Homo sapiens: one gene and its partners. The protein of the gene in region 4 purifies or fractionates together with the protein of the main gene of each other region. This does not show direct contact. Each region holds a gene or a part of one and is shown on either strand. Other genes may lie near its edges. The genes, in order: TOP3B, ORC2, CAPRIN1 and FXR1.

The links.
Region 1: the proteins of FXR1 (region 4) and TOP3B purify together in Homo sapiens (affinity purification with mass spectrometry, with the first as the bait; 2 studies listed by BioGRID). This does not show direct contact.
Region 2: the proteins of FXR1 (region 4) and ORC2 purify together in Homo sapiens (affinity purification with mass spectrometry; 4 studies listed by BioGRID and IntAct, with this or other methods). This does not show direct contact.
Region 3: the proteins of FXR1 (region 4) and CAPRIN1 purify together in Homo sapiens (affinity purification with mass spectrometry, with the first as the bait; 2 studies listed by BioGRID). This does not show direct contact.

The regions. Positions count from the first base shown.
Region 1 is NC_000022.11:21,979,775-21,986,630, reverse strand, and holds the start of TOP3B (DNA topoisomerase 3-beta-1), read left to right. Parts: upstream 1-3,843; 5' UTR 3,844-3,901; exon of another isoform or gene 3,902-4,217; intron 4,218-6,856. UniProt on the Homo sapiens protein: Releases the supercoiling and torsional tension of DNA introduced during the DNA replication and transcription by transiently cleaving and rejoining one strand of the DNA duplex.
Region 2 is NC_000002.12:200,953,642-200,960,670, reverse strand, and holds part of ORC2 (origin recognition complex subunit 2), read left to right. Parts: intron 1-1,230; 5' UTR 1,231-1,279; intron 1,280-2,537; 5' UTR 2,538-2,547; coding exon 2,548-2,641; intron 2,642-3,126; coding exon 3,127-3,270; intron 3,271-7,029. UniProt on the Homo sapiens protein: Component of the origin recognition complex (ORC) that binds origins of replication. DNA-binding is ATP-dependent. The specific DNA sequences that define origins of replication have not been identified yet.
Region 3 is NC_000011.10:34,096,705-34,103,113, forward strand, and holds the end of CAPRIN1 (caprin-1), read left to right. Parts: intron 1-491; coding exon 492-592; intron 593-993; coding exon 994-1,057; coding exon of another isoform or gene 1,058-1,077; exon of another isoform or gene 1,078-2,356; intron 2,357-2,598; coding exon 2,599-2,663; 3' UTR 2,664-5,906; downstream 5,907-6,409. UniProt on the Homo sapiens protein: mRNA-binding protein that acts as a regulator of mRNAs transport, translation and/or stability, and which is involved in neurogenesis, synaptic plasticity in neurons and cell proliferation and migration in multiple cell types.
Region 4 is NC_000003.12:180,943,664-180,950,692, forward strand, and holds part of FXR1 (RNA-binding protein FXR1), read left to right. Parts: intron 1-4,201; coding exon 4,202-4,273; intron 4,274-4,683; coding exon 4,684-4,832; intron 4,833-5,057; coding exon 5,058-5,151; intron 5,152-5,563; coding exon 5,564-5,680; intron 5,681-7,029. UniProt on the Homo sapiens protein: mRNA-binding protein that acts as a regulator of mRNAs translation and/or stability, and which is required for various processes, such as neurogenesis, muscle development and spermatogenesis.

The DNA of each region.
Region 1 (6,856 bases), on a different chromosome or scaffold from region 4:
GGGGAGAAGGATGGCCTCAGCACACAGCCAGTCAATTTCCTGTTCTTCAGCGCAGGTTTCATTGCCCTTTTATTCAAACTTCAAAAAGTAATCTTGGCCAGGCGCGGTGGCTCACGCCTGTAATCCCAGCACTTTGGGAGGCCAAGGCAGGTGGATCACAAGGTCAAGAAATCAAGACCATCCTGGCCAACATGGTGAAACCCATCTCTACTAAAAATAAAAAAATATTTAAAAATTTAAAAAATTAGCTGGGCTTGGTGGTGTGTGCCTGTAGTCCCAGCTACTCGGGAGGCTGAGGCAGGAGGATCGCTTGAACCCAGGGGGTGGAGGTTGCAGTGAGCCAAGATCGTGTCACTGCACTCCAGCCTGGCGACAGAGCAAGACTCCTCTCAAAAAAAAAAAAGTAATCTTTAAGGCTGTGCACGGTAGCTCATGCCCATAAATCCCAGAACTTTGGGCAACAGAGTGAGACCCCGTCAAAAAAAAAAAAAGTGGCTTCTGGAACTAGGTTGCTCTGCCACTTCCATCATTGTGTCCTGCTGGTTCTTTTTTTTTTTTTTTTTTTTTTTTGAGATGGAGTTTTGCTTTTGTTGCCCAGGCTGGAATGCAATGGCATGATCTTGGCTCACTGCAACCTCCGCCTCCTGGGTTCAAGCGATTCTCCTGCCTCAGCCTCCCGAGTAGCTGGAACTACAGATGTGCGCCACCATGCCCACCTAATTTTTTGTAGTTTTAGTAGAGACGGGGTTTCTCCATGTTGGTCAGGCTGGTCTCTAACTCCCGACCTCAGGTGATCCGCCCGCCTCAGCCTCCCAAAGTGCTGGGATCACAGGCGTGAGCCACCGCGCCTGGCCTATGTGTCCTGCTTCTTTATGTGTAAAATAAGGATAATAATAATATCTAATTCCTAGTGTTGTAATGAGGATTGTGTCAGTAACAGAACAGTGCCTAGAACAGAGTAAGTAAGCACTGCATGATGTTAACTATTAATAGTATTATCAAAATCATGGACCAGCCTATGCCGAACCAGAGAGAAGAGAGGTCCAGGAGCCCTCAGTTATCCCATCCACCATAACCAGGCACCTGCCCAGTAAGTGAGGAGGGTAAGGAAGAGGAGAAAAGTCAAGACCATGGTGGAAACACCCCAGGGCTCTGCTTCCTGAAGTCCCATGGCGGTGTCTGGGCACCTGAGTTTCTCTCATGGCCTCTGCACACTCCTTAGAGGAGGCCTCTGCAGGCAAGTCTGCTGCTACTCTTTAGGGGAGTCAGTTTCTCCCCAGCCATGGGGAAAGAAGAACGGCCCCTCTCGCTGAGTCGATCCTAGGCCACCATCTCCCTGGTCAGAGTGGAGCTGGGGTTGGGGGGAGTCCCAATAGGGAGACACCTCCAAGTTGAAGGGTTCCTCTGAATCTGGGTCATTTGTCAACCTAAGGGTCAGTCAGAAAGCCTGACCCAAAGCTCTGGCAGAGGGTCAGCTGCAGGGCTCTCCGGGAAGAAAGCACAAGGCAACTGCAGTTTCTCTGCTCTGACCAAGAACACTTCCCGACGCCCTGGCCTTCAGAGCTGACCACTCAGCGCCTCCTGCTGGCCCAGGCCTCAGGTCCTTCCTAGGGCTCCATACAATGAACTCTGGAACTGGATTGATGGAATGAGCTGAGGGCCTCTGGGTTTCTCTTTCAGCCAACTGGTAGCACCCAACAGAGCCAATCTTAGCCCTGGCTGGTATGTGGAGAACACACTGCAGGGCGGCAAGGTGGAGACCTGGAGGGAGAGGAGGAGCTCGGATCAGGGTGGTGGCAGGGAGGCAGGGAGACTTGAGGGGATCTCCGATATACAGTCTTCGATTTAGGACAATTTCCACCTACAGGATTTTTCAACTACAAAACCAGTATGCATTCTGCACGCTTCTTGACTCATGATGGGGCTACATCTGGGTAAGCCCATAGTAAGTTGAAAATACCATAAGTCAAAAACGTACTTTCGAGTCACAATATTTTCAACTTAAGATGGGTTTATGTGGATGTAGTTCCATCTGAAGTTGAGGAGCATCTGTATTGTAAAGACAGTAATGGCAGGATTTGTGGGTGGTCCAGGATGCTCCCAGGCTCTGTCCCTGAGCAACCAGGAAGATGGAGTTGCCATTTTGGAGACGAAGAACCTACCAAGGTGTGGGTTTGGAATCAGGAGTTCTGCTTTGAAAGTGAAGTCTCACCGTGACTCATAATTTGTGACATTTCCAAACCTTAATTTGCCTATAGAACTTTTCTTTTTCCAGAGCCTCTATCCAGACTACTTATTATTTATCAAAATAAATTAGATAAATAAATAACTTAATTTTAGAATTCATCTTCCAGATATACTTTACACAGATCATTCCAATAAAGGCAGGTTGGGGCCCGGGACAGTGGCTCACCCCTGTAATCCCAGCACTTTGGGAGGCCGAGGCAGGAGGATCACTTGAGGCCAGGAGTTTGAGACCAATCTGGGCAACATAGTGAGACCCTCCCCCTAGACCCCATCTCTACCAAAAAAAAAAAAATTAATTGGCTGGGCTTGGTGGCTGGCACCTGTGGTCCCAGCTACTGGGGAGGCTGAGGTGAGAGCATCGCCTGACGCCAGGAGATCGAGGCTGCAGTGAGCTGTGATCTCGCTACTGCGCTCCAGCCTGGGTGACAGAGTGAAACCCTGTCTTTAAAAAAAAAAAAAAAAAAACAGCAGGTTGGGAAAATCTACAAGGAACAAGGGCAATGTGTGTATGTTATTTAAAATAAGATCATAAAACGTATTTTAAACCTTCCATAATCCTAATGCTCTAACAAATAAATTAGTTGGCCGAGCGTGAAGAGTCACACCTGTAATCCCAGCATTTTGGGAGGCCGAGGGAGGCGGACCACCTAAGGTCAGGAGTTCAAGACTAGCCTGGTTAACACGGTGAAACCCCCGTCTCTACTAAAAATATAGAAATCTTTGGGAGGCCAAGGCGGGCGGATCACGAGGTCAGGAGATCGAGACCATCCTGGCTAACACGGTGAAGCCCCGTCTCTACTAAAAAAATACAAAAAATTAGCCCGCGTGGTGGCAAGCGCCTATAGTCCCAGCTACTTGGGAGGCTGAGGCGAGATCATCGCTTGAACCCGGGAGGCGGAGGTTGCAGTGAGCCGAGATTGCGCCACTGCACTTCAGCCTGGGCAACAGAGTGAGACTCCGCCTCAAAAAAAAAAAAAAAAATATATATATATATGTATACACACACATATATATACATACACATATAAATTAGCTGGGCGTGGTGGCGCACGCCTGTAATCCCAGCTATTTAGGAGGCTGAGGCAGGCGAATTGCTTGAACCTGGGAGGCGGAGGTTTCAGTGAGCCGAGATCACACCACTGCACTCCAGCCTGGGCGACAAGAGTAAAACTCTGTCTCAAAATAAATAAATAAATAAATAAATAAATAACTTAATTTTAGAATTCATCTTCCAAATATATTTTACACAGATCATTCATTCATTCCACAGATTTTTTTACAGCATCGAAAAGAAGCCTGCTATACACACATCGGTACATTTTTATTATTTTAATTATTAACAGCATAAATGTTTTCATGCCAGTTTTCATAATCATTGTAATGATAATTGTCATGATTGTCTCTCCGTGGCGGGGAAGAATCTGGGTGCAGGGCTTGGGGATCCCTGCGGTCCGCGGCGTGCAAGTGCCACTCCCTGGGGTGCTCCCGGAATCCGCGAGCCACGGAACCTAAGAACGCCGACCCGCCGGAGCCGGAGGGCAGACGCTGGCACACCGGACGCGGGGACGCCAGAAGCGGCTGGACCCGGAAATAGGGGTTGTCGGTAGCCGCCCCGGGAACAAGGACCGGAGCTGGATCCGCGGTGCGGCTGTGGGTGAGCGGCGGGCTGCGGGACCCTCGCCCGGCGGCTCAGAAAGGCGGGAAGCGCACGCATTTTTCTGGCTTGTTTCCTGAACGTTGGCCGGCGGAGGACCCGCGAGCTCGGGAGAGCGCCCGGGCCGGGCTCTGCATTCTTGTTGCCTCTTCCCTGGCGGGGGTGATACTCTCCCGCGGGGCTTGCTGTGGGGGTTCAGGGAGGTGGAGATGGGCCCGCCATGTGCCTGCAGGGAGCAGGCGCTGTGGTTAATACTTTTCTTCTTCGAACCCTCCCACAGCTCTTTAGGGTGAGATCTGCTGTACCAGTCTCACAGGTAGGGAAACTGAGGCTCAGGGAAGCTGTGCAGCCACCGGGGCCCAGATCGGTGCGGTACACACCCAGGCAGCTTCCACTCGCCGCCCCCTAGGCCCTGGCTGGGTTTTGAGGGCACCCAGGTTCTCTGACCTGTTATCTGTAAATGAAGTAGGGTACTTTTGTGAACAAATTAGCTGGAATCCAGGGGCAATAATTTCTCGCAGAAGTGAAAGGTAAGATGTTCCTAGTCTTGCCTTTTTATCTTCTCACCTTTTGAAACAGGACCTGAGAGGCCAGCCTAACTTGGGCTTGATGGCCAGCCAGTCCTGGGATTCTTTTGCCAAGGTCACCTGACACTAGTGTGACTTGTTCTGAACCTCCATTTACTCACAGTTTTAAAAAATTACAACACCTGCCTTATGGGGTTGCTGGCGAGATTGAATAGTGTTGATAGCTATGGTGTGCCTACTACAAAGGAGGAGCTTAAGAAATGGTTGTTTCCCTCTTTTCCTGATTCTAGAAGCATTTGGTAAAGTTACTGAGGTGGTAAATCCTAGGAATTTTAATGCTATTCAGACCACTGCTAGGCCTACTCCCAGGCCACATCTGCTTGTTTCTTTTTTTGTTTGTTTTGTTGCAGGCAGAGTCTCACTCTGTCACCCAGGCTGGAGTGCAGTGGCGCGATCTCAGCTCACTGCAACCTCCGCCCCCGGGTTCAAGTGATTCTCCTGCCTCAGCCTCCTGAGTAGCTGGGATTACAGGCATGCGCCACCACGCCCAGCTAATTTTTGTATTTTTAGTAGAGACCAGGCTTCACCATGTTGGCCAGGCTGGTCTTGAACTGCTGACCTCGGGTGATCCACCTGCCTCAGCCTCGCAAAGTATTTGCTCACTGTCTATTTACCGTGAGAATGCACAAAGCAAAACCCGTGTTCTCCTGCTGCTTACTTACTTTCTAGGAGCTGTAAGACAAGAGCTGAATAAGTAGATGGAAGCTGTACCAAGTGTAGTGATGAGTGCTACAAGGAAGCAAAGCTGGGCTGCTGTTCCATCAGAGTGCTCACAGAGGCAGGACAGGATCAGGCTTGGGGCACGGGTTCTAGAACAACCAAGTCCAGCCACTGGAGCTCTGGTCTCTCTGACCCCACAGTCCCAGTCTAGGCCAATAAAATGGCAGCACCTATTAGCATCCCTGCCTAGGATGCTGGCAGGACTGCCTGGTCCCTGGTGTGTCCTCATTATGTCATACATAATTGCTGACTACTCTGTGGCATAGACATGAGAAAATCTGAGGAAACATTTTAGGACAAAATTTCCTACTTTGGAAGAGATGGGAAACTCAGACCCTCACAGAACAATGCCCCTCTGCTGCGAGTTTTCCCTTTTGGCCTCTGGCTTCCCAGGGTGAGAGAAGGGGAGTCCCTAAATCTCTTTTAAACCTCACTTCTGGGCCTCTGATTTTGGTAGAATCAAAACTTCCCCAGAACGGAGAGCAGAGGCCAGTCATAATCACCTTGGTTGTTCATTCATTCCCTCAGCAGGCATTTAGTGCATGCTGGGTGCCAGAAATATGGCAATGAACCTGACAATTGTGGGAGAGACAGACTGCTGACGCCAGATGCAGTCTTCAGGAGGGGAGGGGCAGGGGTCAGAGCAAGTAGACTAAGGGGGAAAAGTGGCCTAGGCCGAAGCCTGCTGGCGCACAGGGAGGAAAGGTGGGTGCGCAGCAGAGCCTTGGGAGATGCAGCTGGAGCTGTCATGGGCCAGAGAGCTCATCTGCAGACAGTGTCGTCATTCCACAAGGCCTCGGCTCTTTCACTGTGGGATGGTTGTACATTTAAGGGGAACATCCACTTACTTATTTTGAGGAAAAAAGCAAATTGTCATTTTATTTGGGACAGCTTTCTGGTCAAGATTACTGATTTCACTGTAGTCCTGTGATCTCTTAAGTGGGGAACAAGGTTGACAGCCCAAGGCCGACCTTGGACCTCTTCCCCTGCACAGCATGATGAGCAGCAGAAGCCCCTTTAGTGAGGGAGTTCCTTTGGCATCCTTTCTGAACAATGCCCTTTACAACCCTCCTTTATTTTTCTGGTTTTATTGTAAAGTCCCTTGTCTTAGTTCTTGTCCCTCAGTCACCTGTGTCCAGGCGCTAAATGTAAAAGGTGCAAAAGGGAATGTGGTGAGGAGGCACCCCCAGCCCTGACCTCCAGGCCCTAACACCCACTCCAGGTGATTGCTTGGACTGTTTGTTTTGCGTTCCATCCAGACATATCGCCTCTTCATAATCAAGTGCACACGTGTGCACACATATGTGTGATCACAGATGGCAGTGCTCTCTACACACCGTTACATGCCCAGCTTTCTTAGCATGATTTATTTCAGTGATCTGATCCACGTTAGTATGTACCAAGCAGATGCTTTCCTTTGTAATGCTGCCAGGTGCTCTACTGTAGAGAATGCCATGCTTTTTTTTTTTTTTTTTTTTTTTGGAGATGGAGTCTCACTCTGTCGCCCAGGCTGGAGTGCAGTGGCGCAATCTCGGCTCACTGCAAGCTCCGCTTCCCGGGTTCACACCATTCTCCTGCCTCAGCCTCCCGAGTAGCTGGGACTACAGGCGCCTGCCACCATGCCCAGCTAATTTTTAGTATTTTTAGT
Region 2 (7,029 bases), on a different chromosome or scaffold from region 4:
CTCATTTGTAAGTTGGGGACATTATATATATAAAGAGAGAGATGCAAAATACCTAAGTCAGAGAATCTGAGGATTTAATGAGCTGGTGTACATAAATGTGCCTAATACAGTGCCTCACAAACAGCCCCTTAAAAAACCTGTTGCTTTATTTTATACAAATATTACATAAATGGGTTAAACTTTTTCTCTAATACACCCAGTTTCCCCATAATAGGAAACAGTATTATGACTAGAAAAATGGCCCAAGAGGACATGTTTTACAAGCAATGGTCATAAGTTATAGATGAAGTATTTATTATCTTTATTTTTTATTTTTATTTTTAAAATTTTTCCTTCATATCACAGCCAAGTCCACAATTTTTTGTTGTCGTTGTTGTTTAAAAAAATTTTTTTGACCTGGTGTGGTGGCTCACTCCTGTAATCCCAGCAGTTTGGGAGGTAGAGGTGGGTAGATCGCTTGAGCCCAAAGGTTTGAGACAAGCCTAGGCAACATGGTGAAACCTCATTTCTACAAAAAATACAAAAGTTAGCTGGACGTGGTGGCAGAAGCTAGTAGTCCCAGCTGTATGGGAGGCTGAGGTGGGCAGATCACCTGAGCCCAGGAGGTTGGAGCTGTGGTGAGCCAAGATCATACCACTGCTCTAGGTGACAGAGCCCAGACCCTGTCTCAAAAAAAAAGAAAAAAAAATTAGAGACAGAGTCTCACTCTGTTGCCCAATCCGAGTAGACTATAGGCACATGCCACTACGCCCAGCTAATTTTTTTTTTTTTTGGTAGAGGCAGGCCTTACTGTTGCCAGGCTTGTCTTCAACTCCTGGCCTCAAGGGATCCCCCTGCCTCAGCCTCCCAAAGCACTGAGATTATAGGCATGAGCCACTGCACCCAGCCCACTATTTATTATCTTTATACACAAAGTATGAACCTCATAGAGTTGTGCAGATTAAATGAGAATACATATGGAGTACTCAAAACTGTCTAGCACAATGTAAGTGCTCAAATTTTGTCCTCCTCTCTTCCCACTCCATCCAGATGTTCTCAGTATCTAGGGCTTCCTAGCCAAATCAGTAATGGTCTTTTTGTCCTTTACTATACCATTACAACAGCTTTGGCTTTGTAAGGTCTACATGTATCTATTCATCATGCTTGTTAAAACTTGTGGAACTTGTTTTTGCCCCATTGCTTTCATTTTTCTGCTAGCTGACCCTGACTGAGTTATTTTTCCAATTACAGGTGACTGTATCTGAATTTTGCAGCTGCAGAATGTGTAGTACCTTAAAAGGTAAATGAAAACTGAAAGAAGTCATTTAAGCATGTTGCTTGTCAAAATAAAACTTGGTAACATTGAATTAGTTTTCTTCCTGCAGTTAATGAACTCAGAAGAGATAAATGACTGTGGTGGTGGCCCATGCCTGTAAATCCCAGAGGTTTGGGAGGGTGAGGTGGGAAAATTGCTTAATTCCAGGAGCTCAGAACCAGCCTGGGCAACATAGTGAGGCTCCATCTCTACAAAAAAAGGAAAACCTGCCAAGCATGGTGGCATGTGCCTGTAATCCCAACTACTTCAGAGGTTGAGATGGGAGGATTGCTTGAGCCCAGGTGGTTGAGGCTGCAGCAACACAGTGAGACCCTGTCTCAATAAAAAAAGAAAGAAAAGAGAGACACAGTCAATAGTTTCTCCTGCCAAAAGAAAAGGTGAAAACAAGATTGTAAGAAAGAGAGAAGAGAAAAGAAATCACCAAGAACACTGAATCTTAGTTTACATTTTTTGGGTAAACTGATTAGCTGGCAGCAGTTAAAATCATCATTAGTTATTTTCAGGCCAGTAGCATAGTAAGTTCTGAAAGTTCATTTTGTGAGACTAGCCAGAGTTGATCAAACTTTTGCTTGCCAAACTCTGGAGGTTTGTTCAGTGAGGAACTGAGTGTAAAGTGTTCGAAAGATTTGTGTTTACTGTTTAGTTACCAAGATATCTAGAAAGCCATATTCATATTTGTAAAGTTGTTTGGTAAGCATTCCATAAAAGTAAAGGGAGGTGCTTGAGGGTTTTTTGATCCAGGCTTAGGACACAAGTGAAGTTTAACAGACTCCCCACAATTGACTGTAGCTTTCTAGTGAACAGATAATAAAATCCATTAAAGCATTATTCTTTGTTTGGCTGTCACTTTTCTAAACACTCATGTATTAACCACCCCCTTTCTGTTAATGTGCTTATCTGGATTGGTTAGAGCTTTCATTAAAACTTAAAATTGTTTTTCTGAGAATATTTTATTTTATTTTTCTGAGTATATTTTAGCTACCTTGATTGGATTTAGCTCTTCTCAAATCTCAGAATCTCTTTGCCTCCCCAATTTTTTAGATAAAGAATTGAGTTACCTACAGTTGAATATGTAGTAATACAGTAATGCATAATGTATTTTTTATACTTAAAAAGACTTTAAAAATATTAGATAAAGACATGTATTCATTATGTGAATGTTTAATTTGGTGGTTGATATGAATTCTTCATCACTTTTGAGTAACTTACTGTTTTTGTTTAGGTTGGCAACAATGAGTAAACCAGAATTAAAGGAAGACAAGATGCTGGAGGTTCACTTTGTGGGAGATGATGATGTTCTTAATCACATTCTAGATAGAGAAGGAGGTATTAAGTGATTGTACAATTTGAAGAGATGCTTATTATAATGTTTATGGATTATTTCACTTTTAAAACTTTTAACATTTTCTTTTGAAAATATAGCGCAAAGGATTGATCTGGTTAGTAAAACTAAATAAAAACTGCTTTAATTTTTAGTTTAATTCTTTCAAACTTTAATTGAAAATGTTCAGTAAAGCCTAATATAAAACAAAATGCCCAGGAGTGGTAGTCACTAATAACTACCCATTGTAATTTAAAATATGTGGTTATTTTGAACCCTAAAAATATATACTTTCAAGATTGTGTGTGTTTTTTTTTTTAACTATATAAACTGTGGAAGAGTGGTCAGAGTGGTCAGTTTTAATCAAAGAGAAAGCTTTTTTCCCAGCTTTTAAGTAATGACAATATAAATATTATAATTTCTTATTTAAATGTAATGTTTAGAAAGAATTTATACCTGTCATGCTCTATTTCTTTGGATGTTCTTATAGGAGCTAAATTGAAGAAGGAGCGAGCGCAGCTTTTGGTCAACCCCAAAAAAATAATAAAGAAGCCAGAATATGATTTGGAGGAAGATGACCAGGAGGTCTTAAAAGATCAGAACTATGTGGAAATTATGGGAAGAGATGTTCAAGGTATTTGAGGGGGTGAAATATACACTCGTTTCTGCTAGTAGCAGAAATTGCTTTATAGGATACACAAAAGTAGTCTGGTAGGTTAAACAGTGGTGTTCTATATGATCATGTTTCTCATCTAAAAAGCATTTGCTTCAATTTCTCCATAGTTCTTTTTTTTAACAACCAGTCCTGCACATAGTTTTCAGTAAGAAGGAATCTATAGACCAACCACTCTAAAGTTATTTTATTTTTAAAATTTTTCCAGGATACATGTGTACAATGTGCAGGCTTGTTACATAGGTATACATGTGCCATGGTGGTTTGCTGCACCTTTCAACCCATCATCTAGGTTTTAAGCCCCACATGCATTAGCTGTCTGTCCTTATGCTCTCCCTCCCTCCACCCACCCGCAGGCTGTGGCATATGTTGTTCCCCTCCCTGTGTCCATGTGTTCTCATTTTTCAACTCCCACCTATGAGTGAGAATATGCAGTGTGTGGTTTTCTGTTCCTGTGTTAGTTTGCTGAGGATGATGACTTCTAGCTTCATACATGTCCCTGCAAAGGACATGATCTCATTCCTTTTATGGCTGCATAGTACTCCTAAAGTTATTTTCAAGATTATTTATTTATTTATTTATTTATTTTAGAGACAGGGTCTTGCTCAGTCACCCAGATTGGGATGCCATGGCACAATCATAGCTCATTGTAGCCTCCAACTTCTGGGTTCAGGAGATCCTCCCAACTTAGCCACCTGAGTAGCTAGTACTATTTTTAAGGTATTTATTTATGGCCAGACATGGTGGCTCACGCCTGTGATCCCAGTACATTGGGAGACTGAGGCAGGAGGACTGCTTGAGCCCAGGAGTTTGTAACCATCCTAGGCAACATAGTAAGATCCCGTTTCTACAAAAAAAAAAAGTTTTTAATTAGCTGGAAGCTGGGTGTGTGATGGCTCATGCCTGTAATCTCAGCATATTGGGAGACCAAAGCAGATTGATCGCTTGAGTCCAGGAGTTTGAGACTAGCCTGGCATGGTGGCACACACCTGTGGTCCCAGCTATGAGTGAGGCTGAGGTGGGAGGATCACTTGAGCCTGGGAGGTTGAGGCAGCAGTGAGCCGTGATCATACCACTACACTCCAGCCTGGGCAACAGAGTGAGACCCTGTCTCAAAAAAAAAATAAAACTAGCTGAGCATGGTGGCGTGTGCCTGTAGTCCTAGTTACTTGGGAGGCTAACGCAGAGGATTGCTTGAGCCCAGGAGGTTGAGGCTACAGTGAGCTGTGATTGCATCACTATACTCAGCCTGGGTGACAAAGCGAGACCCTAGGTCAAAACAGAACAAAAAAAAGATATTTATATTTTTAACTTATTTAAAATACCTTTCTAAAGCAAGTTACTTTATTCTTACCTTGATCTTTACAGAACTAGGAGGAGCATTTCAAGAAGTAGTGTTCTAACCCAGGGATGCTGGTATTATGTGTGTGGTTTTAATTTTTACATCTAAGCCAGATTCCTGCAAGATTATTCTTAACATAAAACATTTTTTTAGGTTCGAATTATATTTTAGTTAGGTTTTTCCTGGGTACAAGGAACACAGATCCCCACAACCTAGCTTAAAAAAATAATGACAAAGGAAAGAAATCAATATTGTTGGGTACTAGGAGAGTTGGAACTGGGACAGTGTTAAAAACTGAGGAACTGTGCTTTCATGAGTCTCCAGGTCTCCCTGTGTCATCTCTGTGCATCTGTTCTGATTTCTCTATGCCACATATTTTCTTCATGTACATGTGTTTTATTCTCACATACTTATAAATGTCCATCAAGTTCCCAGTGTTAAGTGATTTGGTTTTTCAGTTCTCCCATTCTAGATTCTCAAGAGTCAATTTAGCTCAATTCATTTTTAAAATCTGGACATAGAAATAGCATATAATTGGAATATCCACAGATGAATCACAGTTGAGTTATCTGTGCCTATTACTTATTATATTAATGAACATAATTACATAGTTCATTAACTATGGGGGTAGAGTCATATACTCCATGTATAGAGTTATACAAAAAATGACCACTGCTCCTCAATAGATTTAGTGGGCTGGGTAGGGTCTCCTATGTGTCCACAGCTAGACAGTTGACATTTTTTGAGCATATTCTAAATAAAACTTGGTGTTCTTGACTCCCTATTATGCCAGGCCTAAGAAGAGATTGATAACAGTATTCCACAAAGGAAACTTTTATCATAAAAATTGTCTCTTAAAAAAGTAGTATGTTTGTTGTAGAAATTCAGTGCTTCCAACCTTTCTCACATAACAGCACTCACAGCAAATGATATTTGGAGGCACAATGGAATAAATAGAAGAGGATGCTGCAGACCAAGGACAAATACCCCAGGGCCCTAACCCTACCCCTGCTACTGGCCTTGATTGGCATCCTCAAAGGCCTGAGAGAATCAGTACTCAGCACATATGAAACCCATACCATTTATTTATTTATTTATTTATTTATTTATTTATTCATTCATTCATTCATTCATTCCTCACACTGGGGAACTTTGCCTTATTTTTTGGCATCATGCCCTATGTTTTTCAACCTTTTTAAAATTATTGACCCCTAATTAGCCTTTTTAGACATTTTCTCCTAATCACTTTTTCCCACCCTAAAAATTTCAGTACTACATATATGCTGTATATCTGTTTATGTACTGTGACGCTTTGGAGGGCCACAGACTATTATATTAATAATGTCAAAGTCTTTTTTCCACACTCCCTCCTGTGCCAAGATCCAGTTTTACCCAATTGGGAGATGTATTGTACCTGTCAAGAATGCCTGCTTTAGAGAACGTGGAACCGTTAACATTTCAGTGTGTATCTTCTGTCTGTTCATACATGCATGGGCACACATAAGCTTGCACCATTACGTTTATAAATAGACTTTTTGCAATTAATAATGTATCATATATACATTACTCTGTCATTAGACATTCTTCTACAATAAGAGTTTTGACATGTATTGCCAAATATCCTCCTAAAGTTTATACAGATTACACTATTTAATCATAGTTACATTTTCCTAAAGACTTAGTTTTGGCCAGGTGCAGTGGCTCATGCCTGTAATCTCAGCACTTTGGGAGGCCAAGGCGGGTGGATCGCCTGAGGACGGGAATTCAAGACCAGCCTGGCCAACATGGCGAAACCGTGTCTCTACTAAAAATACAAAAAATTAGCTGGGCGTGGTGGTGGGTGCCTGTAATCTCAGCTACTCGGGAGGCTGAGGCAGGAAAATCGCTTGAACCCGGGAGATGGAGGTTGCAATGAGCCAAGGTCACACCATTGCACTTCAGCCTGGGCAACAAGAGTGAAAATCCATCTCAAAAAAAAAAAAAGAAAAAGAAAGAAAGAAATCCCAAATCCCATCTCTACAAAAAACATACAAAAATTAGCTGGGCGTGGTGGCATGCACCTGTAGTCCTAGCTGCTCAGAAGGCTGAAGTGGGAGGATCACTGGAGCCCAGGAGGTTGAGGCTGCAGTGAGCCACAATCACACCATTGCACACTAGCATGGGTGACAGAGCAAGAATTTATCTCATACACACACAAAAAAGCTTAGCATCTGAACCATTTTTAAAGTGTATGGGTTCAGTGGCATTAGGTACATTCACACCATTTGTAACCAATCTCCCAAACTTTTCTCATTGTACAAAACTGAAATTTATTCATCTGTAGATGGACACTTGGGTTGCTTCAACCTTTTGGGTATTGCGAATGATGCTGCTATGAA
Region 3 (6,409 bases), on a different chromosome or scaffold from region 4:
CTTTTACTAGTTCAAATTATTTTTTGATTTGTAAAATATATCACACAGTTTTTGGGAAGGATGTATCTGCATTAGCCTCCTATGTGCAATTTAAACAATGTATATTTTGGTACAATTTGTGTATTTGGTATAATTTGTTATTTAAATAACAGATCATGGAATTTTTGTTCATTTGGTTATGTCAAATTAATGTCTACCACTATCTCCTGGAGGATAAGTATTTTCCACATTACCAAAACTTACGGGGATTGTTTATTATATTTGTACAGATGTGTGTTTACATGCATAGATGGGTTAAAAGTTTATCTTCTGAGGGGCAGTTAGTACTTACAGAAATTTATAAACAGATTGGATCAAGATAGGAAATTGGAGATTAATTTGATTAACTAGCCTGGCTTATAATTTCTAGTTCTTCCCGTCTTCATTAATAAAAAAGTAAAAATTCCTTGTGAAGATAAGAAAATTATTTCTTTTCTTGTCCTAAATTTTAGGAGGATATGATGGTTACCGCCCTTCATTCTCTAACACTCCAAACAGTGGTTATACACAGTCTCAGTTCAGTGCTCCCCGGGATTACTCTGGCTATCAACGGGTAGGTAAAGTAGTTCTAAAGTGTAAACCTGAACTAAATATACCAATGAAAGTGACTTAGTGTTGTTGCTTAATGAACCTAAGTAACTAATTTGGCGTTAACTTTGTGGTGTCCAAGACACTCTGTTGAAACAAAAGCTTTTAGCACTCAACATCAGTACTCCTTTAGTAAAGCCTGTTAAAGACAGTGATTTCCAAGAGCAGAGAAATATATTTCACTGAATGTTCTTTGAGAATAGTAGAAGTACAACAATTACAGAACAAGGTGTAGCTGTGATAAACTGATACTGAAGTGTCTAAAAGATTAAGGAAGAATTCTGTATTGAGTGTTAGACTGAAAGAATAGATGGGTAAGCATTTTTTAAAAAGTACCTTTTCAATACTAACTAGCTTGTCTTTTAGGATGGATATCAGCAGAATTTCAAGCGAGGCTCTGGGCAGAGTGGACCACGGGGAGCCCCACGAGGTAATATTTTGTGGTGGTGATCCTAGCTCCTAAGTGGAGCTTCTGTTCTGGCCTTGGAAGAGCTGTTAATAGTCTGCATGTTAGGAATACATTTATCCTTTCCAGACTTGTTGCTAGGGATTAAATGAAATGCTCTGTTTCTAAAACTTAATCTTGGACCCAAATTTTAATTTTTGAATGATTTAATTTTCCCTGTTACTATATAAACTGTCTTGAAAACTAGAACATATTCTCTTCTCAGAAAAAGTGTTTTTCCAACTGAAAATTATTTTTCAGGTCCTAAAACCTGCTAAATGTTTTTAGGAAGTACTTACTGAAACATTTTTGTAAGACATTTTTGGAATGAGATTGAACATTTATATAAATTTATTATTCCTCTTTCATTTTTTTGAAACATGCCTATTATATTTTAGGGCCAGACACCCTTTAATGGCCGGATAAGCCATAGTTAACATTTAGAGAACCATTTAGAAGTGATAGAACTAATGGAATTTGCAATGCCTTTTGGACCTCTATTAGTGATATAAATATCAAGTTATTTCTGACTTTTAAACAAAACTCCCAAATTCCTAACTTATTGAGCTATACTTAAAAAAAATTACAGGTTTAGAGAGTTTTTTGTTTTTCTTTTACTGTTGGAAAACTACTTCCCATTTTGGCAGGAAGTTAACCTATTTAACAATTAGAGCTAGCATTTCATGTAGTCTGAAATTCTAAATGGTTCTCTGATTTGAGGGAGGTTAAACATCAAACAGGTTTCCTCTATTGGCCATAACATGTATAAAATGTGTGTTAAGGAGGAATTACAACGTACTTTGATTTGAATACTAGTAGAAACTGGCCAGGAAAAAGGTACATTTTTCTAAAAATTAATGGATCACTTGGGAATTACTGACTTGACTAGAAGTATCAAAGGATGTTTGCATGTGAATGTGGGTTATGTTCTTTCCCACCTTGTAGCATATTCGATGAAAGTTGAGTTAACTGATAGCTAAAAATCTGTTTTAACAGCATGTAAAAAGTTATTTTATCTGTTAAAAGTCATTATACAGTTTTGAATGTTATGTAGTTTCTTTTTAACAGTTTAGGTAATAAGGTCTGTTTTCATTCTGGTGCTTTTATTAATTTTGATAGTATGATGTTACTTACTACTGAAATGTAAGCTAGAGTGTACACTAGAATGTAAGCTCCATGAGAGCAGGTACCTTGTCTGTCTTCTCTGCTGTATCTATTCCCAACGCTTGATGATGGTGCCTGGCACATAGTAGGCACTCAATAAATATTTGTTGAATGAATGAATGAATGAGTACTGGTGGAATACTCCATTAGCTTTACTCTTCTTTTAGCTAAGAGAACATGAGCAAATTTGCGCATGACAACTTCCAGGACAGGGGAAACTTGAACACTGAAGAATTGACCTCTTAAGCCTAATAATGTGGTGACAGGCTGCCCACATGCTTCTTGACTTCAGATGAAAATCTGCTTGAAGGCAAAACAAATAATATTTGAAAGAAAAATCAAATGCCATTTTTGTCTTCTAGGTCGTGGAGGGCCCCCAAGACCCAACAGAGGGATGCCGCAAATGAACACTCAGCAAGTGAATTAATCTGATTCACAGGATTATGTTTAATCGCCAAAAACACACTGGCCAGTGTACCATAATATGTTACCAGAAGAGTTATTATCTATTTGTTCTCCCTTTCAGGAAACTTATTGTAAAGGGACTGTTTTCATCCCATAAAGACAGGACTACAATTGTCAGCTTTCTATTACCTGGATATGGAAGGAAACTATTTTTACTCTGCATGTTCTGTCCTAAGCGTCATCTTGAGCCTTGCACATGATACTCAGATTCCTCACCCTTGCTTAGGAGTAAAACAATATACTTTACAGGGTGATAATAATCTCCATAGTTATTTGAAGTGGCTTGAAAAAGGCAAGATTGACTTTTATGACATTGGATAAAATCTACAAATCAGCCCTCGAGTTATTCAATGATAACTGACAAACTAAATTATTTCCCTAGAAAGGAAGATGAAAGGAGTGGAGTGTGGTTTGGCAGAACAACTGCATTTCACAGCTTTTCCAGTTAAATTGGAGCACTGAACGTTCAGATGCATACCAAATTATGCATGGGTCCTAATCACACATATAAGGCTGGCTACCAGCTTTGACACAGCACTGTTCATCTGGCCAAACAACTGTGGTTAAAAACACATGTAAAATGCTTTTTAACAGCTGATACTGTATAAGACAAAGCCAAGATGCAAAATTAGGCTTTGATTGGCACTTTTTGAAAAATATGCAACAAATATGGGATGTAATCCGGATGGCCGCTTCTGTACTTAATGTGAAATATTTAGATACCTTTTTGAACACTTAACAGTTTCTTTGAGACAATGACTTTTGTAAGGATTGGTACTATCTATCATTCCTTATGACATGTACATTGTCTGTCACTAATCCTTGGATTTTGCTGTATTGTCACCTAAATTGGTACAGGTACTGATGAAAATCTCTAGTGGATAATCATAACACTCTCGGTCACATGTTTTTCCTTCAGCTTGAAAGCTTTTTTTTAAAAGGAAAAGATACCAAATGCCTGCTGCTACCACCCTTTTCAATTGCTATCTTTTGAAAGGCACCAGTATGTGTTTTAGATTGATTTCCCTGTTTCAGGGAAATCACGGACAGTAGTTTCAGTTCTGATGGTATAAGCAAAACAAATAAAACGTTTATAAAAGTTGTATCTTGAAACACTGGTGTTCAACAGCTAGCAGCTTATGTGATTCACCCCATGCCACGTTAGTGTCACAAATTTTATGGTTTATCTCCAGCAACATTTCTCTAGTACTTGCACTTATTATCTTTTGTCTAATTTAACCTTAACTGAATTCTCCGTTTCTCCTGGAGGCATTTATATTCAGTGATAATTCCTTCCCTTAGATGCATAGGGAGAGTCTCTAAATTTGATGGAAATGGACACTTGAGTAGTGACTTAGCCTTATGTACTCTGTTGGAATTTGTGCTAGCAGTTTGAGCACTAGTTCTGTGTGCCTAGGAAGTTAATGCTGCTTATTGTCTCATTCTGACTTCATGGAGAATTAATCCCACCTTTAAGCAAAGGCTACTAAGTTAATGGTATTTTCTGTGCAGAAATTAAATTTTATTTTCAGCATTTAGCCCAGGAATTCTTCCAGTAGGTGCTCAGCTATTTAAAAACAAAACTATTCTCAAACATTCATCATTAGACAACTGGAGTTTTTGCTGGTTTTGTAACCTACCAAAATGGATAGGCTGTTGAACATTCCACATTCAAAAGTTTTGTAGGGTGGTGGGAAATGGGGGATCTTCAATGTTTATTTTAAAATAAAATAAAATAAGTTCTTGACTTTTCTCATGTGTGGTTGTGGTACATCATATTGGAAGGGTTAACCTGTTACTTTGGCAAATGAGTATTTTTTTGCTAGCACCTCCCCTTGCGTGCTTTAAATGACATCTGCCTGGGATGTACCACAACCATATGTTACCTGTATCTTAGGGGAATGGATAAAATATTTGTGGTTTACTGGGTAATCCCTAGATGATGTATGCTTGCAGTCCTATATAAAACTAAATTTGCTATCTGTGTAGAAAATAATTTCATGACATTTACAATCAGGACTGAAGTAAGTTCTTCACACAGTGACCTCTGAATCAGTTTCAGAGAAGGGATGGGGGAGAAAATGCCTTCTAGGTTTTGAACTTCTATGCATTAGTGCAGATGTTGTGAATGTGTAAAGGTGTTCATAGTTTGACTGTTTCTATGTATGTTTTTTCAAAGAATTGTTCCTTTTTTTGAACTATAATTTTTCTTTTTTTGGTTATTTTACCATCACAGTTTAAATGTATATCTTTTATGTCTCTACTCAGACCATATTTTTAAAGGGGTGCCTCATTATGGGGCAGAGAACTTTTCAATAAGTCTCATTAAGATCTGAATCTTGGTTCTAAGCATTCTGTATAATATGTGATTGCTTGTCCTAGCTGCAGAAGGCCTTTTGTTTGGTCAAATGCATATTTTAGCAGAGTTTCAAGGAAATGATTGTCACACATGTCACTGTAGCCTCTTGGTGTAGCAAGCTCACATACAAAATACTTTTGTATATGCATAATATAAATCATCTCATGTGGATATGAAACTTCTTTTTTAAAACTTAAAAAGGTAGAATGTTATTGATTACCTTGATTAGGGCAGTTTTATTTCCAGATCCTAATAATTCCTAAAAAATATGGAAAAGTTTTTTTTCAATCATTGTACCTTGATATTAAAACAAATATCCTTTAAGTATTTCTAATCAGTTAGCTTCTACAGTTCTTTTGTCTCCTTTTATATGCAGCTCTTACGTGGGAGACTTTTCCACTTAAAGGAGACATAGAATGTGTGCTTATTCTCAGAAGGTTCATTAACTGAGGTGATGAGTTAACAACTAGTTGAGCAGTCAGCTTCCTAAGTGTTTTAGGACATTTGTTCATTATATTTTCCGTCATATAACTAGAGGAAGTGGAATGCAGATAAGTGCCGAATTCAAACCCTTCATTTTATGTTTAAGCTCCTGAATCTGCATTCCACTTGGGTTGTTTTTAAGCATTCTAAATTTTAGTTGATTATAAGTTAGATTTCACAGAATCAGTATTGCCCTTGATCTTGTCCTTTTTATGGAGTTAACGGGGAGGAAGACCCCTCAGGAAAACGAAAGTAAATTGTTAAGGCTCATCTTCATACCTTTTTCCATTTTGAATCCTACAAAAATACTGCAAAAGACTAGTGAATGTTTAAAATTACACTAGATTAAATAATATGAAAGTCTGGTTTTCTCACTGTCCTTGAACGCAGTCTGCTTAAGTTGTTAAAAACCATCCAGCAAAAGCTGTAGGTGAAGAAGTGCTACTGGTGTGAAGAGAGGAAAAGGTTTATAAAAGCAATCTGATAGCCTCATCTAATACACTTCTCAGCTTCTGCTACTAATATCCTACTTTTAACAAGCTGTTCTGAAGCTTAATCCAGTTACATAAGCAGTACGGCTGTTTTGAGTAGAGGCAGTGGAAGATCAGCAGTTTGTTCCTGATCATCTAGCAAAGGCATTTGTGTATTAATGCTTATTTGGAAATACCAATTTTAAGTACTGTGTTTAATAGGGAGACACACTGTATTAAGCAACTAAACTAAGGCTTTATTCAGCAAATTAGGGTATCCTTTGCCCAGCATCATGCCAAGCACTAGGCATTTAGTGGTGACAAAAATTACTGTGGTTTCTGCTTTCATTGAACTGTCTAATCAAAGACTGATGACACCAAAGTGTAGCAGATGCC
Region 4 (7,029 bases):
GATATTAAGTTTAAAATGGAGTTCAGCATTTCATCGTTCAGTGAGAAAAGCCTCCAGGCAGTTGAGATGGTTTATTTAGAAAGCCAGATTCATGAATGATTATGCTTTGGTGAAAATAGAATAAGGGGGTTAGGTAGTTTTAAGACATAACATTTTCAGCAAATGAGGCTTGATTTACCCACATTAACAAGAGATATTCGAACTGCCTCTCTGAGATAGTTACTCGAATGGGCACCTTCTTTTGGTTGTTAGGATATTCTTTTTTTTTTTGAGATGCAGTTTCGCTCTTGTTGCCTAGGCTGGAGGGCAATGGCGCGATCTCAGCTCACCGCAGCCTCCGCCTCCCAGGTTCAAGCAATTCTCCTACCTCAGCCTCCCGAGTAGCTGGGATTACAGGCATGCACCACCACGCCTGGCTAATTTTGTATTTTTAGTAGAGACAGGGTTTCTCCATGTTGAGGCTGGTCTCGAACTCCTGACCTCAGGTGATCCACCCACCTCGGCCTCCCAAAGTGCTGGGATTACAGGCGTGAGCCACCGCGCCCGGCCTAGAATATTCTTTTTGTAACCCTCAGTATACTTGGGAAAACAGTCATCACTGATCGTTTACCAAATAATTTTGTAGCAGAAAGAATGAAAGGGTAGTAAGGTCGTTATTGGACCTTTTTTTTTTTTGAGACAGGGTCTCGCTCTGTCACCCAGTTTAGAGTATAGTGGCATGATCATGGCTCACTGCAGCCTTGACCTCCCAGTCTCAAGTGATCCTCCTTCCTCAGCCTCCCAAGTAGCTGGGACTAGAGGCATGCACCAACCACACCTGGCTAATTAAAAAAAAATTTTTTTTATAGAGACGAAATCTTCCTGTGTTGTCCAGGTTGGTCTCAAACTCCTGGGCTCAAGCAGTCCTCCTGCCTCAGCCTCCAAAAGTGCTGGGATTACAGGCATGAGCCACTGTGCCCCCCATTATTAGACTTTTTTAAAGGCCATTATTGACTCCATGCTGGAGTATAGTGAAGCAAACACAACTCACTGCAGCCTTGACTTCCTGGGCTCAAGAGATCCTTCCACCCTACCCCAGGCCCCCAAGTAGCTGAGATTACAGGCACATGCCACCATGCCTGGCTAACTTTTGTATTTTGCATAGTGATGGTGTTTCACCATGTTGTCCAGGCTGGTCTCGAACTCTGGAGCCAAAGTGATCTGCCCACCTCAGCCTCCCAGAGTACTCGGATTACGGGCGTGAGCCCCACCACGCATGGCCTTATTAGACATTTTAGTGAGGGTTTAAACATAGCAAATCTAACTTTTTCATATTTTCCAGGTTTTGATGATATATGTATCTACAATGAATGCAGTTCTCTAAATGTAACTAACTGCTCACTGTTATACATGAACCTAGAACATACCAATCTTATAAATATTGATAGCAGATTTAAAATATATCTCTAATAAATTCTAGCTTATTCTGGTTATTCTTACAGTTGGATCATCAGAATGCAGTCCTTGAATACTTTGGAACTTTTAATGACATCTCATTCTATTGAAGAAGGGATAGCCATCTCTGTGCTGTAATTTTAGCACATTTAGTCAGTTGGATTGACTAATCTATTGAATATTTTTGCATTTCATTATCTTTCTTTTTCGAGTTACCTTTGTATACACATCTGCTTTTGACATTTCCACTTACGAAGTACATTTTGGCACACAAACATTTCTTAAAATTTTATCTTCAATTTTTATTTTACCTTTTTTTTCCCCCTGGACAGGGTCTCGTTCTGTCACCCAGGGTTGAGTGTAGTGGTACAATCTTGGCTCACTGCAGTCTCAACTTCCCAGGCTCCAGCAATCCTTCCACCCTAGCCTTCCATGTAGGTGGCACCACAGGTGCACGCTACGACACCTGGCTAATTTCTTTTGTATTTTTGATAGAGATGGGGTTTCATCATGTTGTCCAGGGTGGTCTTGAACTCCTGAGCTCTCAAGCAGTCGACCTGCTTTGGCTCCCCAAAGTTTTGGGATTATAGGTGTAAGCCACCGTGCCTGACCACAAACATCTTAAAAGATGGAAGAATACTGTCATATACCCTTTTAGCAAACCAGGATGATCTGGGTTCTTGTTGGAGGATTTTGCATGATGGAGTCTCAGTTGAGTCATTAACTGGATGAGAATACACATCATCTTTCCCTCTTCTCCTTAGAAATACATTGTTTGAGAACAATGTTTGAGAAATACATCGTTTGAGAAATACATCGTTTGAGAAATACATTGAGAACATTCATCTAAGATGTCACCATCTCAGACTTCATAGTCTGAGGTTTTGCTTTGTAAGATAATTTCACATTTATCAGTACTCTTTGCATCTGTTGTCTGATATCTCTAATAATTAGAAAGGCCTTCCTCTGTAAATTTTTCTTCTCTTCGCAATTATGAGTGAAAAAAATTCATAATTATCAACTGGTCAACGGTAGCTAAAAGCAGACTACAAGGATGGTGTCTTTGGTCTTTTTGAACTGTTTTGAAAGAGATGTGATACCTCAGGCTATGCAGTAAGGAAACTGTATGAACATTAACAGTTTATTTCACTGTTGTATCCTCTAGGTGATGCCATCATTCCTCTGTTCCATTTTAGTCTTTATTTAAAGCATAGCTGAGAATAACTGATGAATGTTGATGAAATTGTAAAGTGTTTCAAGATATAGGAAAAATAAGATCACTAGATTCTACCTTACATTTATAAAAGGGCCCAGTGGATACATATAATAATTACAGAATAAGGGTGAGTTCTGTTCTAGTCTTAGAGAAGTAAACTTTCTTGTTTTTTGGAATATGTCGTAAGGAAGAATATAAGTCATGAGATATTGATCCCTTTGAATAGTTAGATCTGTTTATAAAAGAAATGGAAAAGCTAAAATTGAGTTTAACGGACCCTGATTGGTATATTGGACTTCCTGCTTTTTCTCATAGCTTTTTTCTAATCATGGTATACGATAAAGTTCATTAGTAGGTTTTGGTTTATTCATTTCCAGTTCCAGTATTCCTACCACTTCCAAGATTACTCTCAAATCATCCTGATAGAAGCTTCAGGCTTTCTAAAAGTCTTTGTTTTTAGTTGTTTGTGTTTATCTCCCAGATGGCTGTTAACAGCCACTGATAGGTTTCCCTGATGATCTCTGCAAGGACAGTCAATCTTGGTTTTTATTGGTTTTTAGTTTCTTCTCAGCCCCCCTTTTCTACCTTTCTCTATACTGAAAATATAATACGTTAAAGAAGCTCTGCTGTGTCATAAGAAATAACTCTAATCCCAAGTGAAAGCTTCTGTGACCTATTACGTTAATAAAACTGATATTTATAGATATAAAGAATATGACTTGTTTTTTTGTGGATAGTTTTTATTTTGTTTTTTTTGAGATGGAGTTTTGCTCTAGGTGCCTAGGCTGGAGTGCAATGGTGTGATCTCTGCTCACTGCATCCTCCACCCTCTGGACATGATTCTCCTGCCTCAGCCCTCCGAGTAGATGAGATTACAGGCACCTGCCACCATGCCCGGCTAATTTTTATATTTTAGTAGAGACAGGGTTTACCGTGTTGGTCAGCCTTGTCTCGAACTCCTGACCTCAGGTTATCCACCCACCTTGGCCTCCCAAAGTGCTGGGATTACAGGTGTGAGCCACTGCGTCCGGCCTGGATAGGAATTTTGTAAGATACTTAATGTATTCTGCTAGATGGACTGAATGTGTGTAATTTTTTTGTTCAGTTAAACAATTTTAGTACATTTGATTTAGGTTCTTTAGCACGGGATCTAAATGTCATATCCTCGATGGAATTTAAAAATTACGTTAATCACTTTCTGAGAACAATTTTTAATATTAACAATGTTGACAGAAACAGGAAGACCTGTGTTTTACATTATTTAAAACTCCTTTGTAAGAGCATTTCTTTAAAATAATACTTATGTTTAGTAAACCTCATGAATATGGAATTAATTTCTAAGAAGCTAAATTGCCCAAAAAAGTAGTTTTATTTTTAAGTAGTAAATTTAAGTTACATATCACTTTCTTTAAATTGCATTTAATATGCCAATTTAAATAAAATAGCATTTTTCATTCTTAAGTTTATTGGGATTGGGTATTAATAAAAAGTCATTTACAGCATTGAAATCTTTTGGGATGAATGGATATAGGCATTTTTTTTTCTTCTCAGGTATATTCAAGAGCAAATGACCAAGAGCCATGTGGGTGGTGGTTGGCTAAAGTTCGGATGATGAAAGGAGAAGTAAGTACTCTTCACACTTGCTTTGTGACTAGTTTCTAAGGAAGTACCTCAGTGCTTGGTTTTTGTAAATCTTATTTCAACTGTTAGTTTTATTTCTAAAAGCCTACCTGAGAAATAGTTGATCAGACATTTCCATTAGCATTAATTTCTGTTTGTGTTCTGTATTGGCAAACACCAAAGCTGCTCTCCAGAGGTACACCTCAAGCATGTAAGGACCGCCAAGGTTCATGCTTGTAAGAACCTATAATCTAGTTTAGGCAAATCAGATTGATGTAGCTAAGCTGTGCTTAGTATTTTATGCCACATGGGGGAGGGTCCGTTGGTTAAGCTGAGCAAGGTAATTAGAACTTCATTTAAACTTCATTATTTTTGTTCAGATGGGATTTTTAAAGTATTTTGATGTCTTTTAGTTTTATGTCATTGAATATGCTGCTTGTGACGCTACTTACAATGAAATAGTCACATTTGAACGACTTCGGCCTGTCAATCAAAATAAAACTGTCAAAAAAAATACCTTCTTTAAATGCACAGTGGATGTTCCTGAGGATTTGAGAGAGGCGTGAGTAATTTTATATACTATTGAATTGTTCTGTGAATTAAGAAGATTTTTCAGTCCTACAAAACATTTTCCCTAATGCCCAATCAAACCTTCTGATGGAAAATCATCTTAATGAACAAAGGTTTTAGTGGGGCTTGTCAAAATGAAACACTGACTTTGTATTGTGACTCTCCTCTGACTTTAATCTGTTATTGAGTTCTTACACATAAATTGATTTCTCTCTAGGTGTGCTAATGAAAATGCACATAAAGATTTTAAGAAAGCAGTAGGAGCATGCAGAATTTTTTACCATCCAGAAACAACACAGCTAATGATACTGGTAAGATAGTACCATATTATAAGGTAGCTTATTAATGGATATTGCACAGATTTTATAATTACATATTTCAGAAGAGAAAAGCTAAGATCAACTTAGTGTATAGTGAATTTATTAATATAGTGTGGGAGAAAAATTTGTTTGCAGCTATAAAATGTTAATTACATTCTTAACATCATAAAATTCTTAATGTGTGAGATTCCGGATTTTTCCCCAATCAAACATATTCTGAATAGCAGATCTAAATAATACAGGAATTCAGAAAGGAAAGTGTGATTACTCAGAGTAGTGAGTGTTAGGTGAAAGAAGTGTAGTAGATGAGAAGCAAGGAAGGCTTTGCATAGAAGATGGGATGGTGTTTGTGCTATTTGGAAGAATGATTAAAGTTTTGAGTAATTAGCTTGTTTGTTTATAGTCTGCCAGTGAAGCAACTGTGAAGAGAGTAAACATCTTAAGTGACATGCATTTGCGAAGTATTCGTACGAAGTTGATGCTTATGTCCAGAAATGAAGAGGCCACTAAGCATTTAGAAGTAAGTGGGTTTACTTACAAAAGAGTTTTCTGTGTCCCATTTAGTTTTTGTTTGTTTTTTGGAGACAGATTCTGGCTCTGTTGCCCAGGCTAGAGTGCAGTGGCACAATCTTGGCTTACTGCAACCTCCACCTCCCGGATTCAAGCGGTTCTCCTGCCTCAGCCTCCGTGTAGCTGGGATTGCAGGTGTGCCCCACCAAGCCCAGCTAATTTTTGTATTTTAGTAGAGGTGGGGTTTTGCCATGTTGGCCAGGCTGGTCTCGAGCTCCTGGGCTCAAGTGATTGCCCGCCTCAGCCTCTCAAAGTGCTGGGATTACAGGCATGAGCCACCGAACCTGGCCCCCATTTAGTTTTATATTTTTCAAGTTCCTTGCTTCAAACGAAGGCAGCCCAGGACCTCTGTTTCGTGACTGTTTGGAGTTGTGTCCGTAGAACAATTGCTTTTCCATTTTACCTTTTATCAAACATAGCCTTTCCTTTGCGAAATGCCTGTTGACTTGTTGGTAGGACTTAGATGACAGGTGCCAAAGAGCTAAGAAACTAGGGATACTCAGTAGACTGTATTGCTAGTTCTTTACTTTGTATTTAACCTTTTTATTTTTTTAACTGCCTTGTCATCTGTCAGTCATGATATCTTTCATCAGTAACTAGTTCACTGTAACAACTCTTGTGTGAGAGGAGAGGAGGACTAGGAGTGAGGCATCATGTGGCATGTAGTATTAAAATATTAAGCTTATCATTATATCTCTGTCTTATCCTAAGGTACTCTGTTTTGTCCTGTTCTTCCCTGCTACACTAGTAGGATACTTGTTCTTCCCACTCACTCACACTTTCTAGATCTAGATGAACACATGTGCATGCACACACTGTGATGTCTCAGAGAAATTAAGATATGTTTATTATCCTTAGGACAAATTTGGAAATGTTCTCATTAATTTAAAAATTCTGAACAAGGGATATGTGAACAAATCTGCCTGTATCTGGAAAAGTGTTTTAGACTAATAAAATAGATGAATAAAACAGTTTCTTTTCCCCATTCATTTTATGACATTAGATGAGTTTCCTTTGTTTCTTAAGAAACTTGAGTTTTGGCCTTTTTAAAAAAATTTATGTGGGTTTTCGGTGGTTTTTTCTTCTTGGGTTTTTCTTTATACTGTGGTAAAGTACATATGAAACTTAGCATCTTAACCATTTTTAAGTGTACACTTAGTATTAAGTATGTTTACATTATTGATCAATCTTCAGTACATCTCATCTTGTAAAACTGCAAATCTATACCCTTTAGACAGCTGCTCATTTTCCCCTTTCCACAGCCCCTGACAACCATCATTCTATTTTCTGTTGCTATAA